Regions from separate parts of the Homo sapiens genome. Here regions 2, 3, 4 and 5 are each reported to be linked to region 1. The links are microRNA targets in miRTarBase. Many come from high-throughput screens and were not tested one by one. Region 1 holds a microRNA gene; each other region holds the end of a gene's coding sequence.
Evidence for each region. The annotated mature microRNA hsa-miR-4291 reads UUCAGCAGGAACAGCU and lies in region 1 at 1,034-1,049, opposite strand. An mRNA with a match to its seed (bases 2 to 7 or 8) in the 3' UTR can be bound and repressed. Matches are read on the target gene's strand: a 7mer-m8 pairs with bases 2 to 8, a 7mer-A1 pairs with bases 2 to 7 and ends in A, and an 8mer does both.

Region 1 (3,594 bases):
AGCTCCCCGTCATGCAGGGCATGCAAGTAGAGCAGCAGATGCCCAACATCTAGGGAAGCTGTAAAGGAACTTCCTGGGATCCAAGGGCCCTTCCTTTCTCCCAGAGTCTACATTTCTAGTGAGAATGGTGGGGGACAGCCAGGTCAGAGAGGGAGCGTGTGTTTGGAGAAAGCAGGTAGTGGGAAGGGCAGTAAAACTAGGGCCATTCGGGGGAAATGAGGAATCATCTTAGCCATCTCCACCAGTTCTCTACCTCTCCCCACCAGCTTGGGGGCCACCCCTCCAACTCAGTGACTGTGGGTCACCTCTGTCTGTGGCCAGGCCCTCCGAGCTTCCCATCATGAACAATGCCCCTGAGAGACCCTAAGGCGTGTTGCAGGAATGAGCAGAAGACAGGCTGCTCACATCATCCCTTCTAACACCATGGGGCATGGCCTCAGCATGTTTCAGTCTTGCCCTGAGTGCCTTAGGGATGTCAGCGGCTCTACATAAAGTCAGGCCATGGTGCTATCCAAGGGCTGTGATGTGCGGCCAGCAGCAGGCAGTCAGTAGAGCTTGGTGAGTTCATTATTTCTCTCTCCAGCCCTCAGTTCAGAACACAGGGGTACAACCCTGAATGCCAGAAGGAGGAATCAGCCAGTTATCCGTGGTCAGACCTGGAGGTTGCAGAGAGATAACTTTGGTTTGTACAGGGGTCCCTGGAGAAATCAGAAAAAACAGCCGTTCTGAATTCAGACCCCTGAGTGGCCTGGCTGGCCATAGTATTGCCACTTTCTACTGCCCCAAGGGAAGCCCTGTGCTTGGTGGGGCTGGTGTTCTATCTGAAACCAGGAGAGACACAAAAAGGCTACAGCCATAGGGGAGGGAGCAGGTTTCTGTGGAACTAAGGAAACTCCAGAGAGTCTATTGTACAGTGTGTCTGGGTCACCTCCATCTGTAGACCCTGGAAGCACTTGGCTTCATTACCTCACTCTCAGCTCTGAATCCCACAGTTCAGGGCTGCAGCCACAGCAGAACAGCTCTGCCTCCACCCAGCTGTTCCTGCTGAAGCCCCCGGCGTCACCCTCAGGGCGTCCTGAGCTGTGGCACCTCCACAGTGGAGACCCATCCATCACAGAGCCCATCAACGGCCCAGCGCCACCCGGAAGGGGCCAACACCGATGTCAACTAGGGCCACTCTGAAAGCCGCCAGGGCGCGGCCCCAAGGGCAAGATGGATGGGCGGAACCAGCCACTTTAAGGCTGTGTTTATGGGACACCCAAACAGCTGGTCAATCCCCCGGGACCATCACTCACCCAGCTACCAGGGGTCCCTGACAGGCTTGGAGATTGCGTTGCCGTCTTAACTCCAGCAGCACTTAGAGTCTTAGCCTATCAGGCTGAGGGGTCCTGTCCCAGCCACCGGCACTTGACAGATGAGGCACCTGAGCCCCAGCAAGGAGGGCACGTGGCTGCCAGGATCACCCAGGCTGTGAGCAGAAGATGGGCTTGAACCTGGTCCCCCCTCCAGCCAGGGCTCAGAGGGCCCTCTAGTCTCCTGTGCACACACGCAGGCCTTGGCTTGTCTCTGGCACTTTTAGTAATGGAAGGCTTGTCCGCCTGGATGTACGAGCTCTCTCTAGAGACATACCTGATTTTTGGTTTAGTCATGTTCTCATGTTCTACTCAGGGGAGACCAGAGAGGAGCTGCACTTTTACTTCCTCTAGGAAATGACCTCCCCTCCCTCCCTCCATCCCTTCCTTCCTTCCTTCCTTCCTTCCTTCCTTCCTTCCTTCCTTCCTTCCCTCTTTCCCTTTCTTCCCTCTTTCCCTTCTTTCCCTTTTCCTTCCTTCTTCCTTCCCTCTTTCCTTCTTTCCTTCCCTCTTTCCCTTCATTCCTTCCTTTTCTCTTCCTTCCCTCTTTTCATTTCCTTCCTCCCTCCCTCTTTCCCTTCCTTCTTTCCTTTTTTCTTCCTTCCCTCTTCCCTTCCTTCCTTCCTTCCTTCTTTCCCTTCCTTCCTTCCCTCCCTCCCTTCCTTCCCTATTTCCTTCCCTCCCTCCCTTCCTTCCTTTCATCCCTTTTTCCCTTCCTTCCCTCCTTCCTTCCTTCCTTCTTTCCATCCCTTTCCTTCCCTCCTTCCTTTCTTCCTTCTTTCCCTTCCTTCCTTTTTTCCCCTTCACTTTCCTTCCTTCCTTCCCTCCCTCTTTCTCTTCCTTCCCTCCCTCCCTTCCCTCTTTTCCTCCCTCCCTTCCTTCCTCCCTTCCTTCCTTGCTTCCTTCCTTCCCTCTTTCCCTCCCTCCCTCCCTTCCTTCCTTCCCTCTTTCCCTCCTTCCCTTCACTCCTTCCCCCTCCCTCCCTCCTTCCTTTTGACAGATGAGTCTGTTGATGTAGGAAAAAGAGAACATAGAATATCTAGCCCAGAGTCACTACCTACACCTCAAACAGCCCAAAGAAGTCAGTAGATTGGGGTTTCTGAGGAAGAAAGAATCTGGTGAGTAAGGAGGTCACCCCACTTCATAGCAAAGCTCATTTTTCCTGGGGAGGAGGGCAGGAGGGTTAAGGGAAGAACACAGGCTCACCTCATTCTGTCCCTTTGATTTTACCTTCTCCTCAGAAGTGTCCATGTCCCCACCTATGAAGTGGGGTCACTAACATGTATAGGGCTGGGTGAGCGGGGAATGAAATGATGGGTGTGCCATTGATTTCCTTATGATGAGACACCTTCCAAAACCAACAAGTATTGTTACTAATAAAAACAACATGAGCCAGACACCACAACTGTTTCTCATAAAGTGCCATTTTAAGGTAGTCAGCTTTAGAAAGAAATTTGTTACAAAGAACAATATACAAACCCACCATATGCAAAAGTTATCTCAAAGTGGATCAAAGACCTAAATGTAGGAGATAAAACTACAAAGCTCTTAGAAGAAAACTAGAAGTAAATCTTTGTATACTTGCATTCTTAGATATGACACCAGAAACATAAGCAACAAAAGAAAAAACAGATATATTGGACTTCATCAAAATTAAAAACTTTTGTGCCTCAAAGAACACCATCAGGAAGGTAAAAAGAGAACTCACAGAGTGGGAAAAAATATTTGCAAGCTATATATCTGAAAAAGGTCTTTTGTCCAGAATATAAGAAGAACTCATCAGTAAAGGCAAATTTTCTTCAGTGGGCAAAGGATCTGAATAAATATTTATTCAAATATTTTTCCAAATATTGGCAATACAAATGCCAATAAGCACATGAAAAGATGCTCAATACCACTGTGCAAATGAAGTCCACACCGAGATACCACTTCACACCCACGAGGATGGCTAACATCAAAAAGACAGATGATAACAAGCATTGGTGAGGATGCAGATAAGGTGAAACCCTCATATATTGCTAATGGGAACACAAAATGGTGCCGCTACTATGGAAAACAGTTTAACAATTCCTCAAAATGTTAAAAAGAGTTACTGTATGACCTCAATCCACTTCTAGGTGCATGCCCAGGAGAAATGAAAACATCCACATAAAAATGCATACATATGTTTATTGCAGCATTCTTCACAATAGCCAACAGCTGAAAACAATCCAAGAGTTAACCAACAGATGACTGGATAAGG
Region 2 (3,594 bases), not on the chromosome of region 1:
CAGTCGTCCGGTCCAGCTCCCCTCCATCAGCTGCATGGACGCCCGTGAGTCCTGGGGCCAGCCTGCTTTCTCAGGGTGATGCTAGCTCTAATTTAGTATCTATCAGCAGATAACAGAAGCTCCTCTGAGGCTTCAACCAAACCAGCTCCCACCCAACAATGTGCAATAAGAAAGCAGCTAAATCTATGACTCGACAAGCATTTCTTTAAAAAGAAAAAATTAAAAAACCAAGAAAAGCAAGCAGCTAAATTACAAAAGAAAACCAATCCCCAAACTTCTGCCAGCAGACCCCAGGTGACGTCAAATACAAAGGTTGTTTCCATACTAGCAAAATACTTTATTTTTATAATGATAAAACAAGGAAAGTAAAGATTTCTTTTTGGTGTATACCAGAGTTAAGGGCAGTAGAAGAATATGGGGATTAATAGGACTTTTATGAACTTTTGATGACAATAAAAAGTTAACAATACCAACCGTTTGCCATAAAACTTATCATAGCTCCCCCAAAACACACATATAAAGGATCATAGTTTTAAAATCTATAAAAGTAAAAAATATACAGTTGGAAGCTCTAGCGCTTATTCCATCTTTCATATAAAATTGTAAACATTTATTTACACAAAGCAAATGTGTATAACAAAAGTCTGAGCACCCTTTTCTTCTGAGTTGTGGCTCCTGGAAGACGGGGCTGTGCACAGAAGCAAAGTCATCTCCTCCCCTGACTCCCGAAAACCAGGTTCATAAATAAAGCCATGGGCAGCTCCCTGGGGGGACCCCAAGAATCACATTTTATTGCTATGACACTGCAGCAAGTGAGGAGCCCCCACTGTGTCGCCGGCCCCAGGACTAAGGCGGAGTGCAGGGCCAGCGAGCCCCGGGGACAGGGGTGGGAGACGGGGCAGCAGCCAGATGGGGTCAGGAGAGGAACAAGGATCCACAACCAGCCTTCAGCCGATTTTTGGGAGAAAAGCCGCTGAGGTCACCCTCTTCCCCTTCAGATTGGGGAACTCCCTCAGAGGGTGAAATTTTCACTGGCTTTATGATTCACCCCTTCTTTGAGAGCTAAACTGAGTACATGGGAAAGGTAGGGAAGGTGTTTTAAGGAGAAATGGCCGACATACCACTTGGGGTGGCAAATGGCTATTAGAAAAGAAGATCTGAGGGTCCAAGTACCCCCAGTGAGAAAGGCACTGCTGGTGCAAAATAACTACCAATGTGTGTACAACCTCTCGTCCCCTCACCGCGACTCAGGCTGGTTGCATGAGTATTTTCCTTGGCTCAATTCTCACATAGGACACTCCTGAATGATCCATTGGGAGACTCCAGGGAAACAGAAGTGGGGCTGCAGTTTCTCCACAGAACACTCTGCATCTGAGCCACTTTTCAGCATTCTCTTTTCTCTCCACCATTCTGTGTAAAAGGGTCTCACCCTGTGCTTACCACTTTGCTTTCGTTACGGGGAAGTGCTCTCTCCATCTTCGTTTTCCAAAAACAGCTCACATGTCATATTCTATTTCGTGGACCCTCAGCTTAGTCAAGTCCACTTGAATCTTTAGAAAGGATGTCTTAGTGTTATAAAGCAATCTCTTTAAGAAGTGCAAGTCATCTGACATGGGAGTGGCAGAAGTTGTCAAACCAAGTGGAATTGCTTCCTCCGGGCCGGCCTACGGCCTCCTTCCCCAAAACCTTTATGCTAAGGTTCCCTTAGGAATTCTAAGACTCTTCCTTTCCCTCCAATGGAGTAAATAATTGTTTTCCATTTGGGCTGCAGAGAGGAAGGAGAGGCAGACAGAAAGGCCAACGGTAAAGGAAAGACATCTGTGCACAACTGCACAGTGACCACGCTCCCACCATGGGCAACATACATGTTCAGAGAAAACTGCAGAAGGTGGGGAGACATAATACTCCAGGATACAGGACCCCCACATCTCTACCTTCCATATGTAGCCTGGGGTCCTGCTGCCAGGACATGGGAGGAAGGGATTCCTGGGGGCCTTGGGAGGGAGGAGGAGGAGCTGCTAGGAAGACCCTAGCTGTGTCACCAGACCTGCTATCCCATGCCTCCTGTCCCTTTTTGGCATACGCAGTCAACAGCCTGCACTTAGGGAAATAATTTTCCAGTGGCCTCCTTCTCCCCTGAAAGCTGACAAAGAGCAGAAACAAAAAAGGCTCTTAATCAAAAGGAAACCCTAGGTTTCCAATGCCACTTAATTGATTTAAACCATCACCTACCCTAATCTGTTTAAAAACCTTTTGTAAAAAAATTTAAAAATCTTTTCTATGCTACAAATTGCAAATAATTCTGCTATCTAAAGTTTCAACAGAAACTTGTCCCCAGCACTGGGGTAAGTGGAGCAGTCTTGGATAAAATCACCATGATGGCACAGATTTTTATAAGCCCGACAGTGTGGGGTTTCACTGGTGTTACTGTTGGTTTTTTGGTCGTTTGGATAGAAAACCACCTTTAGAACCCTATCCTGCTGTCCCAACACCAGGTACTGATGCCAGCAGATGGGCTGGGGCCAGCCCGATGGACCTCAACTGCTGGCCTGAGGGGCGCAGCCACAGACCCTGCCCAGGGCCAGGCCTCACCTGGAGCTTGGGCTCTACCTGCCCAGCTCCCCAGGCCATGGGCTTTTGGTCCAAAGTAGTTGCTCTTTCTTTGAATCTGAGAATAAAAATATAGGATGAATGAACACTAAAAACACTACAAATCCTTCCATTACTGAGACCCTAACAGGTCGTCCAAATCACTCATCCACTCCTCTGAAGTCCTGTTCTTCAGCAGGGAGTCGATCAGATCGGTGTGTCCAGCCACACTAGAGAGCCCACTGCCACCTGGCTGCCCGCTATAGGCAAAAGGCAGCTCCTGGCCCGCGGTCCGCACAGGGTAGGCCTGGGTGCAGTGCAGCCCCGCCCGACCGCCCATCTGTGAGGCAGGGCTCTGGCTGAAGGCCCCCAGCTCAGGCCCTGCTGGGCTCAGGCCAGGCAAGCCCTGCTGAGGGGCTGTTGGGGGTGGTGCTGGGGCAGGGGCGCTGGTCCTCTGCTGTGCACTCACTGGGGGTAGCAAGGACCCCACGGCAGCTGCTGAGCTCATGGGAGCCATGGGCCTGTTGGGCACTGCCTGGGAGAATTGCGGGCTAGACATTTTCAGGTGGGCCTGCTGCTGCATGTGGAAACTGGAGGCTGCAGTGAAGGGACTCACGTTGCTGTTCCCTGGGGTCTGGCCACTGAGGTTCGGCATTCCCTGATGCTGCCAGGAGGAATTCTGGCCTCCCATGGCTGGTGACACCCTTGGGACCGGTGGCTTTGTTAAACCAGGGTTCAGGGTCCCCTTATTGTGCTGCTGGGAGAGGCCAGAGCTTCCCAGAGAGTTCTGCCCATAGGCAGCTGAGACGGAGGTGTTCTGGCCCACGTTGGTCTGCCGTGGAATGTGGGCATGTCCATTGGTGGCCTGTGGCGGGGGCTGGGCAACTATCTGGGTTATGCCAGAAGCCATGCCATAGAGGCTGCTCTGAGGCATGTTTTGGGAGCCAGGGAACTGAGCCACACCCCGGTCCTGTTGGCCTGAGTTTGTGGGGAGAGAGGAAACTG
Region 3 (3,594 bases), not on the chromosome of region 1:
CCTCTCATAGAGAGTTCTCCTACCCTGTGTTCTGAGGAACATGCTAGAGGGTCGTGTTTTGGGATCCGAAGACAGAACAGTGTGAATAGTGGCATGCTCCTGCCAATGAGCAAGGACAGGATGGAGTTACAGAAGTCTCCCTCCACCTCCTGCCTCTATGGGAAGAAACTCTCCAATGGCTCTATTGTGCCCCTAGAGGACAGCCTGAACCTCATTGAAGTGGCCACAGAAGTGCCCAAGAGGAAAACTGGCTATTTTGCTGCCCCCACTCAGATGGAACCAGAGGACCAGTTTGTTGTGCCTCATGACCTGGAAGAAGAAGTGAAGGAACAAATGAAACAGCACCAGGACAGCCGGCTCGAGCCTGAGCCCCATGAAGAGGATCGGACCGAGCCCCCGGAGGAGTTCGACACAGCACTATGACTGCCCCACTGGGCACAGTGTGGGAGGAGGCTGTGCAGGGTTGGGGTAGGGACTTGCTAGAGGCATTCTGCCTCTACATTTCTTTTTGTTTGTTCGTTTTTTTTTTGTTTGTTTGTTTTGAGACGGAGTCTTGCTCAGTCGCTCAGGCTGGAGTGCAATGGTGGGGTCTCGGGTCACTGCAGCCTCTGTCCCTGGGTTCAAGCCATTCTCCTGTCTCAGCCTCCCGAGTAGCTGGGATTACAGGCACCTGCCATTATGCCCGGCTAAGTTTTATTTTTTTTTTTTAGAGACGGGGTTTCACCATGTTGGCCAGGCTGGTGTTGAACTCTTGACCTCAGGTGATCCACCCTCCTCTGCCTCCCAAAGTGCTGTGATTACAGGCCTCAGCCACCATGCCCAGCCCTGCGTCTACATTTCTAAACCATAGCTGTGTGGGGTTGAACTCGGAGCCAAAAAGTGTGAGAGCCATCAGGGGCTGGCTCTGGATAAACTGGTAGCCACTATCAGTGTTAAGTTTCACATTTAACCTGCATTGGAATTCCCAGGGGTACTGGGAAGAAAGCAGCTGTTCTGTATCAGTCCTACCACCTGCCATTAACCCTTTCTCTCCTAGGATCATTTTGAGAATTTGCCTGCCTGGGCAGGAAAGGGACTATTTCTGTGGAGGAAAAAAGTGAAGATTGATTCTCTTTACTAGTTGCTGCTGATGGATCTCTGTGACAGAGAAATCACCTTATCTCAGACTAATGGGGTGTGATGTGACTAGTCACATGGCTTTTCATTCTTCTCTACGAGAATACAGCCTATCAAAATGATGTCTGTTGGAAATGTAGAACCAATCAAACAGATAATTTATGTATGTAATGTAATGAGAGCACTTTTCATTGACTGTGAACTTTTTATTTTTGAATCTGCACTCGAGCCAATCTTCTTAGAGGCAGCCCGGCACCTTCATCCATAGGCAGAGAGAGAACTGGGTGTTGGAGACTTATTCGAGGGTATAGGAAGGGCCCTGTGAAGTTGATTTAACTTTTGGATGTCAGACTGTGAAAGCTCCTGAGAAACTTGGGGTAATAGGATCTTCTTTTGGGGATGAAAATGGGGAAGGCGTGAGGACCTAGACTACTTCTCCCTAGATCAGAAAAAGAGAATTACCCCTTGACAAATATGATACCTGCTAGGTATTTCCCAGGGAAATTTAGGGATTGGCGTCTTTCCCTAGCATGTGGAGGAATTGGCAGACAGCTTCCTAAGGGCGGGGAGCGGGGGCCCAAGGCTGACACTGCTTGCATCCACGTGACCTTAAGTTATGGCAGATGACTCTGAAACGGACTGAGGCCAATGAGAACAGATGGATGGAGCACTCAGGTTAGACTTGTTCCTTCTCCTATGCTGGAGGAGAGGGATGGTTCTCTAGAATGTTGGAGGTGAGTTGAGAGCTCGCCTCTTGAATGTTGAACAGTGTACTCTTCTGAAAACTGCATATTCACTTTATGTGGTTTCAGAATACTGGGCTCAATACTAACATAAGAAAGACACTTCATTGAGAAATTCTTAAGCTTACAGAAAACCTATACTCTTTGCACATTCCACATAACCCTAGCAAAATGCAGTTTCTTCATACTTCTGTCACTTTTTCCATTGGAAGATTTGCTTAGGAAAATTAATTCCTATTTATTCCCACAAAATGTTGGCATTGCTTGATTTTACCCAATGGGGAATGTGCTTTGAATTTTTGGAACACTTTTACAATTAAAAATAAAGTAGGGCCATTTTTAATTTGTTTCATCAGAAACTATGTTAAAGAGAGGGTTAAATATAAATATATTTTCGTGTGTATTTTTGGGAAGATTTTTGTTCAAAGCAATAGTCAAAATCAGATGACCTGTCCATAATAATTATGTGTCTTCATCTTCTCAGAGGCCCCATGCTCATATGCACGTGTCATTGGGATACACTCTTGGGGGATTTGGTACACTCTAATGGATGTCTAATGTTCAACCCCTCGAGAATCTGAACTTGAGTCCCCAGATTGTCAAACTACTGGTCAGCTATTGAGAATTTTAGAACTCAGGTCTTTGATTTGAAGTAGGGAACATAGTGGCTCACACAGAGTTTAGGTGCTGTTAGAAAGATGGGAACAAGAGTGTTTTGCCACCTTATTTTTATATGGGAAATTTTTTTTAATGAAGAAAAAATGAAAATGAAATAACAGGATGATAGTGATGAGTGATGTAAAACATCTTACTTAGATGGCAGAACCTTCGGGTTGTAGAATAGTGATGTCTAAAAATTAAAGTTATTTTGGGAATACACCACTTTAATAGTATAGTCTTATAAAAATTATTCATTATGGTGAACCCTTCTTGTCTGCTATTCGTTTCCCAACCTACTTATTGGAACCACCTCAAAACCCAGTTCTGAAATGACCTTACCAAAAGTAAATGTATTTATTTTTTAGTCAGCAGAACTCTGTAATTCCAAATGTTGTTCTGTGTGGTAGAATTTTTTTTCAGGAACCATTAGGTTGTATTGAAAATCTTTGTTATAGGCGATACCAAAACTGATTATTCTTTTTTGCAGTCTGCTTTAATTCATGTCCTTCTGCAGTTGCTCTGTATTAAAACAGGGTAAAAAGGCCATAGCCCATTATGAAAAATATAATACAAAACTCTTTGACCTATGAGGTAACTTACAGACATTGTGTTTTCTAAACAGGCTGTCAGTGAAAGCCCGTATCTGTCTCCAGGTGAATGTAATTTACTTCCGAGTACTTTACCCAGAGGATGTGTTCCCCAGGTGGGCAGAGTACAGTTGATCTCTAGCACAGACAGAGATTCTGGCCTCTGCATATTCTCAGGTCTCTGTGTGTACCTCCCATTGAGTAGAGAAGCTTAAGATAATTTCTGAGAGAAGAACACTGCTGATTGTGGGAGCAGTTTAGGAGTCCATGGAAGAAAGAAAAATACATGTGTCTTGGCAGCCATGGTGTATTTTTGTCCAAATGGATTGGAAGGATATTTGAATATTTGAATGTTGGTATGACATAAAGCTGCAGTGCACTATAGAGTCAAGTCATTGAATTACCACTCCTGATACAGGGCTTTATTGTACTACTGTGAAGTGTATGTGTGCAATACATTGGTGAGTTCATTTACTGGTGTACGGAAG
Region 4 (3,594 bases), not on the chromosome of region 1:
TCCCCAGCCCACATGTGTCATCTGGTGATAGGAAGTGAGCCCTGGCTTTGGCTCTTGCGGGTGAGAGGGTTAAGATGCCCTGGCCTCTCACCTGCACAAGGCGGGGCAAGTTTCCTCCCCACTTGTGCAGCCACAAAGAGGTGCAAGGGAGGTAGAGAACACACATTTCTGGCCGGGTGCGGTGGCCCATGCCTGTAATCCCAGCACTTTGGGAGGCCAAGGCAGGCAGATCACAAGGTCAAGAGATCAAGACCATCCTGGCCAACATGGTGAAAATCCATCTCTACTAAAAATACAAAAATTAGCCGAGCGTGGTAGCGCGCACTTGTAGTCCCAGCTACTCGGGAGGCTGAGGCAGAAGAATTGCTTTAACCCGGGAGGCAGAGGTTGCAGTGAGCCGAGATCGCACCACTGCACTCCAGCCTGGGCGACAGAGTGATACTCACTCTCAAAAGAAAAAAAACACAGGTTTCTAAAAAATGATGAGCATGGCTGAAGGGCTGTCAACAGCCCACTAATTACAGAAAGTATGGTGCAGGGCTCAGCAGTTCAGCCTTGCGGGAAGAAACATCCCAAACTGGCTGGTTCCCATTACTAAAGCAACACCAAGCTTTTCATCTTTTCCTTCCACTTACCTTACTTGTCACGGACAGAAAGTCTGTGTCCCCTTCAACTTGTATGCTGAAATCCTAACCCCCAAGGCACTGCTAACAGGAGATGGGGTCTTTGGGAAGTGATTCGATCATGAATGTGGGCCCCCACCCCATGGGTGGGCTTAGTTTCCTTATAAGAGACCCTAGGAGAGCATTTCCCCCCTTCCTCCACATGAGGACAGCTAGATGGGGACACCTATGAACCAGGATGTGGGCTCTCAACCAAACATGGAATCTGTGACTCACTCTTGGATTTCTAGCCTCCAAAATGGTAAGACATAAATTTCTGATGTTTATAAGCCACCTAGTCTATGGCATTTTGTTATCACAGCCCAAACAGACTGAGATGCTAATTTATTATTACTATTATTATTTTATTTTATTTTATTTTGAGACAGAGTTTCACTCTTGTTGCCTAGGCTGGAGTGCACTGGCACGATCTCAGCTCACCACAACCTCCGCCTCCCGGGTTCAAGCAATTCTCCTGCCTCAGCCTCCCAAGTAGCTGGGATTACAGGCATGTGCCACCATGCCCAGCTAATTTTTTTGAATTTTTACCAGAGATGGAGTTTCTCCACGTTGGTCAGCCTGGTCTTGAATTCCCAACCTCAGGTGATCTACCGGCCTCGGCTTCCCAAAGTGCTGGGATTATAGGCGTGAGCCACAGCGCGGGGCCAAGATGCTTATTTATTTATTTTTTTGAGACAGAGTCTTGCTCTGTCGCCAGTCTGGAGTGCAGTGGTGCAATTTCAGCTCATTGCAACCTCTACCTCCCGGGTTCAAGCAATTCTCCTGCCTCGGCCTCCCGAGTAGCTGGGACTATAGGTGCGTGCCACCACGCCCAGCTAATTTTTGTCTTTTTAGTAGAGTTGGGGTTTCATCATGTTGGTCAGGATGGTCTCGATCTCTTGACCTCGTGATCCGCCCGCCTCGGCCTCCCGATGTGCTGGGATTACAGATGCGAGCCACCACACCCGGCCAAGATGCTACTTTTTAAAGTAAACTCTACCACCTCCAATTGACCTCAAGCACTCTTGCCAAAGTGCCAGGACAAGCCACAGGACTTACAGAAAACCCTCAACAGCTGCGTATGAAAGCACCAAGACTCCCTTATCCAGCCTGAGTTATATATACATTAGAATTTTTTCCTTTTATTCTTGTTCACATCTTCGAAGCTGAGCTTCGTTTCAAAAGGAAGGATACCAGAGGCAGGAGGAGGGTCACTTGGGAGGGGAGGTGGAATCTCCCTCCTCTAGCCCCCTTGCTACCTCTTAACAGGCTTCAAAGTCAGAATACAGCCATCAGCTGAGAGCAGTTCATTTTGGCACACTGGGAGGCCGGCTGTGCACACCGGACCTCTCTAGTGGGGGATCAGGTCCTCTGCTCTCCAGTGGGGCCTGGAACAGCTCCAGTGAGATGCCCCAGCTGTGGGCTGGGGGTGCAGCACAGAGCCTCAGCTCCCCCAGGACCCTCAGCTGCCTGAAGAAAACACTCACCTGGCTGGAGGGAAAAAGGGCCTTGCCCTGAGGTATCAGGTGGGTGGCAAGTCATACTGAGCTCCCGCTCAGCAAGAAAACTAAACGCACAGAAGACAGCAGGAAAATGCCATCCTTTAACAGCCAAAAATCTGTCCTTCAGGGGCACCAGGTGACTCCAGCCCCTGGGGGACAGAACAAACACACCATACCTACCATCAGGCACCAGACGCCTCAAAACGCCTGGAGCTAGGGCCGGAAAAGGCGTTAAGTCACCTTCTCTCAGCAGAAATGTGAAGCTGGCCTTCAGCTTCTGCCCAGGATGGCAGAAACCACATTCTGTTGGTGGATTGGTTGCTGGTGATGGACAGAGCCAAAGGTCCTGGGGTTGGCCCCAAGAGCTGAAACGGTGCTTGCAGGAATGGCTGGCACTCCAAGCTGCCTGAGGCAGCCCAGCTGCACTCAGGTGACAGTGACCCAAGCTCTCTGGGCTCAGGGTTTATGGCCACCATAGCCCAAGCACATCCTGATGCCCTGGGTTTAAGTAATGTACCCTCCTTTGTTCTGGCAAAAAGCTAGAGAAAAACCACTATTCAAATCCCTGGAAGGGAGGTGGGTGCAGCTCCCCAGCATTAGAAAACATGGCAACCACCCGTTTCCACCCACCTAGAGCAGCCCCTCGGGCTCCTGTAGGCCACTGTATAGCGCATAGCCAATGTCGTCAATCTCCTCCTCACGCAAGCTGCTGAAGAGGTTCACGCTGGGGTTGAAGTGGCAGGGCAGGCTGGCCTGCTCCAGGCTGCCGATGAGCAGCTCCAGGGCTTGCAGGAAGCGCTCACCCAAGGCCTCCTCCGTCCAATCCACGTTGTCCTCCCCCAGACGCAGGACCACCTGGGTCAGGTGACCCCGGCCTAGCTGCCCCAGAGCCGAGCAACCACGGCAGACAGCACACAGCAGCAGCAGCAGCCGCCGGCGAGTCCCAGCGTCATGGTCGTCCAGGGCTCGCAGCCTAGCAGCCTCCACTGGATACAGGTCCTGCAGCCAGAGGTTCCCCGCCAGCCCCTCCAGGGGCCAGGCCAAGAGGAGGCGGTCGTCAGCATCGACCCCAGGGACTGCCACAAGCACAGCCACAGTGAGCTCCAGGCGTTCGTGCTGCACCTCGAGCAGCAGCTCCTCCGAGGCCATGCTGGGCCGGATCAGGCACCCGAGAAGGCTGCCAATGGCCGGCCAGTTGACAGAAGCAGCCAGCGCCTTGCGGAGTAGCTCCAGCAGGACGCGGGAGGAGAGGTAGCCCCCGACCAGGAAGCGGTCCCAGGGGCTGCTCCCACGGGGGCAGAACTCAAGCTGCGTCCTGCGCACGGCCCAGCAGCGAGGGTCCCTCGCCACAGTGTCCACGCCCGGCACCAGGCTCCACAGGCCCGGCTCCAGCACCAGTGGCACCAGGAGACGCACATGGTCCGCAGCCC
Region 5 (3,594 bases), not on the chromosome of region 1:
TCAAAGTGGCTTAAGACAGTGGGCTTGTCCTGAGAAGGTTGTGTAGCCAGAAGAAGCACGCTGGCCCTTAGCGGACTTTCTGAATGATACTCTAAGACCAAGCAAAGACAACAGATGAGTTATGGCTTGTGGTTAAAACATGACTCACCTGCCCAAATACTTCAAAATTTGCAGCAGGGAAATGAACACACTATCTACTAGAGGTACCAAAGAACCCTTATTTCGGGTTCAAACAATTCAAGGCAGTTATTAACTTGCAGAATTTTCAAATACATCATGACCTCACAGAATTATTTCATGATGGTGTCTGAGTAATACAAAACACTTGGGCTAGTGACGGTTAAGATGTCTTGTGTCTGGGAGGCTTTTTGAAAAGACATATGTCGAAGTAGGAATTTGTTATTGGCAATGTGGCCAATCCTGACTCTTCCCAAGTTTTGCTTCACTGGAATTAACTCAAGGATTCCAAGTGCCATGTGACCAGTTCATAATTTTCTTTAGACACAATTATAAATAATTCAGGAATTTGGTTCATCATTGAAAATGAAGTCCAGGAACAAGCTAATTATACTTATTATTAAAATATGTAGAGTGTATTTTGCTCGAGATAAAGCCATAGGGAACACAATCAGCACATTCACATATTGTGCTTTTGCTTTGTTTCCTGGACCCCAGCCAATTGCTGGCTTAAGCATGGCCATCTCCTTGACTGAGGACAGAAGTGCTGCACAGCATGGAAGGCTGAGCAAAGCACCAGATGCCTTCTGGAAACGCCAGTGTGACTTCAGGAAATGACAAAAATGGTCTCATATCCGTGGATCCTAGTGAAGGCAGGAACCTCACTATCCCTAAACACATAAATGAGAACAGAAGCACAAACAGAACAACCACTGGATTAAATTTACCAATCTGTGGCAGGTAGTTATTAAGCTCAACACTCTGCAAAAGTGTGAGTGTGGTTTCTAAAGTGATGTAAATCAGAGTTTGGACTGGGACTTCCTCAGAGAATGCAGTGCTGTACAATACTAGATCTATGGGATATGAATAGGAGTTACATGAAAAAAATTCACGATCCATTAAACTTGGAAAGTTTGAGGTTAGATAAAATCAAGTGAGTTTCCTTACTATAAGTTCTCTCTCAGACTAATATGCTAATGTGCATTGTGGTTCTCCAAGCAGATATTATGGTATGGTGTATTTACCAAAGGTACTTGACCAGAGAGGGTACTCCTTTGTTTAGAGAGCTTCTCTTGGGGCCACCTTCCTCAGTGCACTTTGGGAAGTGCTGCCTAATTGAAATCAGCCTGTTTTGCAGCTGTCTCAATAGGAGTCCCAGCTGGGCCAAAGAAGCAGCCCAGCAGGAGCCTGAAATGCCCTTGCATTACTGAGTACTGCACTGATTTACTGAGTACTACATTGCCTATATAAGTACTCAGTACTTATAGTACTGAGTACTAGCTGCCCTGTGTTACTGAGTACTATGCTGTCCTACTGAGCACTACACTGTGTTACTAAGCAATTCACTGCCTTACTGAGCACTGCACTGCCTTATTGAGCACTGCACTGTGTTACTGAGCATTGCATTGCTTTACTGAGTACCATACTGCCTTACTGAGTACTGTACTGTATTACTGAGTACTGCACTGTGTTACTGAGTACTGCACTGCCTTACTGAGTACTGCACTGTTACTGAGTACTGCACTGTTACTGAGTACTGCACTGTGTTACTGAGTACCGCACTGAGTATTGCACTGCCTGAGTACTGTGCTGCATTCCTGAGTACTGCACTGCCTAACTGAGTACTGTATTGTATTACTGAGTACTTCACTGCCTTACTGAATACTGTACTGTATTACTGAGTACTTCACTGTTACTGAGTACTACACTGTTACTGAGTATTGCACTGCCTTACTGAGCACTGCACTGTCTTACTGAGTACTGCACTGCCTGAGTACTGTATTGTGTTACTGAGTACTGCACTGCCTTACTGAGTACTGCACTGCTTTCCTAAATGCTGCACTGCCTGGCATTGAGTGAAACAGGTTCCACGGGAAAATGGAACAGGCTCAAACATTTTATACAGGTCCCCTGATCCATCCACAGCCTCACTGTGGGTAAATTTCAGAATGTCCTGATGAAACAGAGACTCTCAGGGATCCTTTCTTCAGATGCAATCATTGCCACAAAAGGAAAATTGAAAGGTGGCATATCACTGGGAGGTTGTTGTCTTACCAAAATATCTTTTGGAAATTGCATATTAATTTTTCTAAGATAATATTAGATCACAGGAGAAGTAAGGTGAAAAGCTGTTAACTCCAGACTCTGAGGTTAATTAGCTCTCTTAGATTGTGCACCTGTAGGAACGTGTAACAGGTATGATGACAGAGTCTTATGCTTGGTTTCCTTTTTATAGAATCTTGAATCAGGAAATATTTTCGTTGCAGCAGAAGGCAAATGGCACAGGAAAAAGAGACATTTTTCCAGAATTCACCCCAACTTCTCTCTAATGGGGGCTGAGATGAAACTATTCTCAAATCCTGTGGAAGACATTCCCAAGAATGACATGGAAAAGAAATTTTTGAGTGACATTTAGAAGGAAATTCAGCAAATCAGTCTCTCTCTCCATATTCCAAATTGCAGACTCCTCAGTTTCACACTGATGAGAATGAACATGAACCACCTTTCCACTGAAAGACCTCAAGGCTCTGTATCTCCGTAATTGATTCAGGCATCTTAGCTATGGCGGGGGAGGGAAGAGCAGCCCCCCGGGTCCAAACATGGTGGCCCACCTCCCTCCCCCATCCCGTCACTCCTCAGGCTTGTGCTTCGTGGACACCAGCTGTCATGCAGGAAGCTGCAGCTTCTCTTTCTCCCGCCTCCTTTGCTGGCTGGAGCTGCAGGATCATGGCCTGCAGAGTTTCCTTCACCATCTGGAGCTCCCTCCTGAGAGACTGTGGGCACATTGTTAAGGAGCACATTCGAAGGTGATCGTGGCCCTCTGCGGCCTCCGAGGGATCGAAGAGCGTGTGAGCCTGCTGGAAGCAGATGGGTACTGACACCTAATTGCAGTTTAAAGTTCTTTCCAATTGTATGAATTAAATATTAATATAAACTTTACACTTTTATATTTTAGAATGACCGCAATTTCTACAATGCCTGAGGTATTGACTCTCTCAAGTCAGGTCTTAAAAAGGAAATGGAAGAGTCAGCTCTTAGCAGAGACAGATGGTCAACTCAGATGCTCAATGATATGCAGTTGGCGTGACCATAACTCCGGCTAAGCCCCAAGTTGGGGTGGGGCAACTGTCAGATGCAAATACTCTTGACAGTGGAAAGGGTAGAATGCTTGAAATCAAAATCTCCTTGAGAAATACAGGATTTGGGGTTGCCATAAGTAGGGAGAGGCATACTGGAGCAGACTCAGTTATTAACATGGTCTCTGTTCACCATTAACCAGCCTTGTCACCCTATGCAAACCAGTTAAAGCCTCAGTTTTCTCTTGAAATGATGACTTTGAAACCTCTCCAGGCTCTAACCTGCTGTTATCTGTTAGTATATTCCCAGGAACTAGGAAGGGCACTCAAGACTTGATAG

Region 2: the mRNA of MAML1 is a reported target of hsa-miR-4291. Seed matches in the 3' UTR shown: 7mer-A1 at 1,383-1,389.
Region 3: miRTarBase lists PHLPP2 as a target of hsa-miR-4291. Seed matches in the 3' UTR shown: 7mer-m8 at 1,124-1,130 and 7mer-m8 at 3,344-3,350.
Region 4: the mRNA of MIEF2 is a reported target of hsa-miR-4291. Seed matches in the 3' UTR shown: 7mer-m8 at 2,411-2,417.
Region 5: miRTarBase lists DISC1 as a target of hsa-miR-4291. Seed matches in the 3' UTR shown: 7mer-A1 at 2,601-2,607.

The regions. Positions count from the first base shown.
Region 1 is chr9:93,816,822-93,820,415 of GRCh38, reverse strand. MIR4291 (microRNA 4291) reads right to left here and starts at 1,059; the gene lies at 995-1,059. The region is part of intron 1 of LOC101928014 (a long non-coding RNA gene); the gene reads right to left.
Region 2 is chr5:179,774,006-179,777,599 of GRCh38, reverse strand. MAML1 (mastermind like transcriptional coactivator 1) reads right to left here. Exons shown (of 5, transcript NM_014757.5): 5 at 317-3,594. The coding sequence ends at 2,723. Among named protein-coding and RNA genes, the nearest start is that of LTC4S, 18 kb to the left of the region's middle.
Region 3 is chr16:71,645,719-71,649,312 of GRCh38, reverse strand. PHLPP2 (PH domain and leucine rich repeat protein phosphatase 2) reads left to right here. Exons shown (of 19, transcript NM_015020.3): 19 at 1-3,594. The coding sequence ends at 423. Among named protein-coding and RNA genes, the nearest start is that of MARVELD3, 21 kb to the right of the region's middle.
Region 4 is chr17:18,263,965-18,267,558 of GRCh38, reverse strand. It overlaps MIEF2 (mitochondrial elongation factor 2), which reads right to left. Exons shown (of 4, transcript NM_139162.4): 4 at 1,007-3,594. The coding sequence ends at 2,795. Among named protein-coding and RNA genes, the nearest start is that of MIEF2, 5.1 kb to the right of the region's middle. RefSeq lists an enhancer at 1-256.
Region 5 is chr1:232,036,051-232,039,644 of GRCh38, reverse strand. DISC1 (DISC1 scaffold protein) reads right to left here. Exons shown (of 13, transcript NM_018662.3): 13 at 1-2,953. The coding sequence ends at 2,814. It overlaps TSNAX-DISC1 (TSNAX-DISC1 readthrough (NMD candidate)), which reads right to left. Exons shown (of 16, transcript NR_028393.1): 16 at 1-2,953. Among named protein-coding and RNA genes, the nearest start is that of DISC1-IT1, 110 kb to the right of the region's middle. RefSeq lists an enhancer at 1,091-1,637.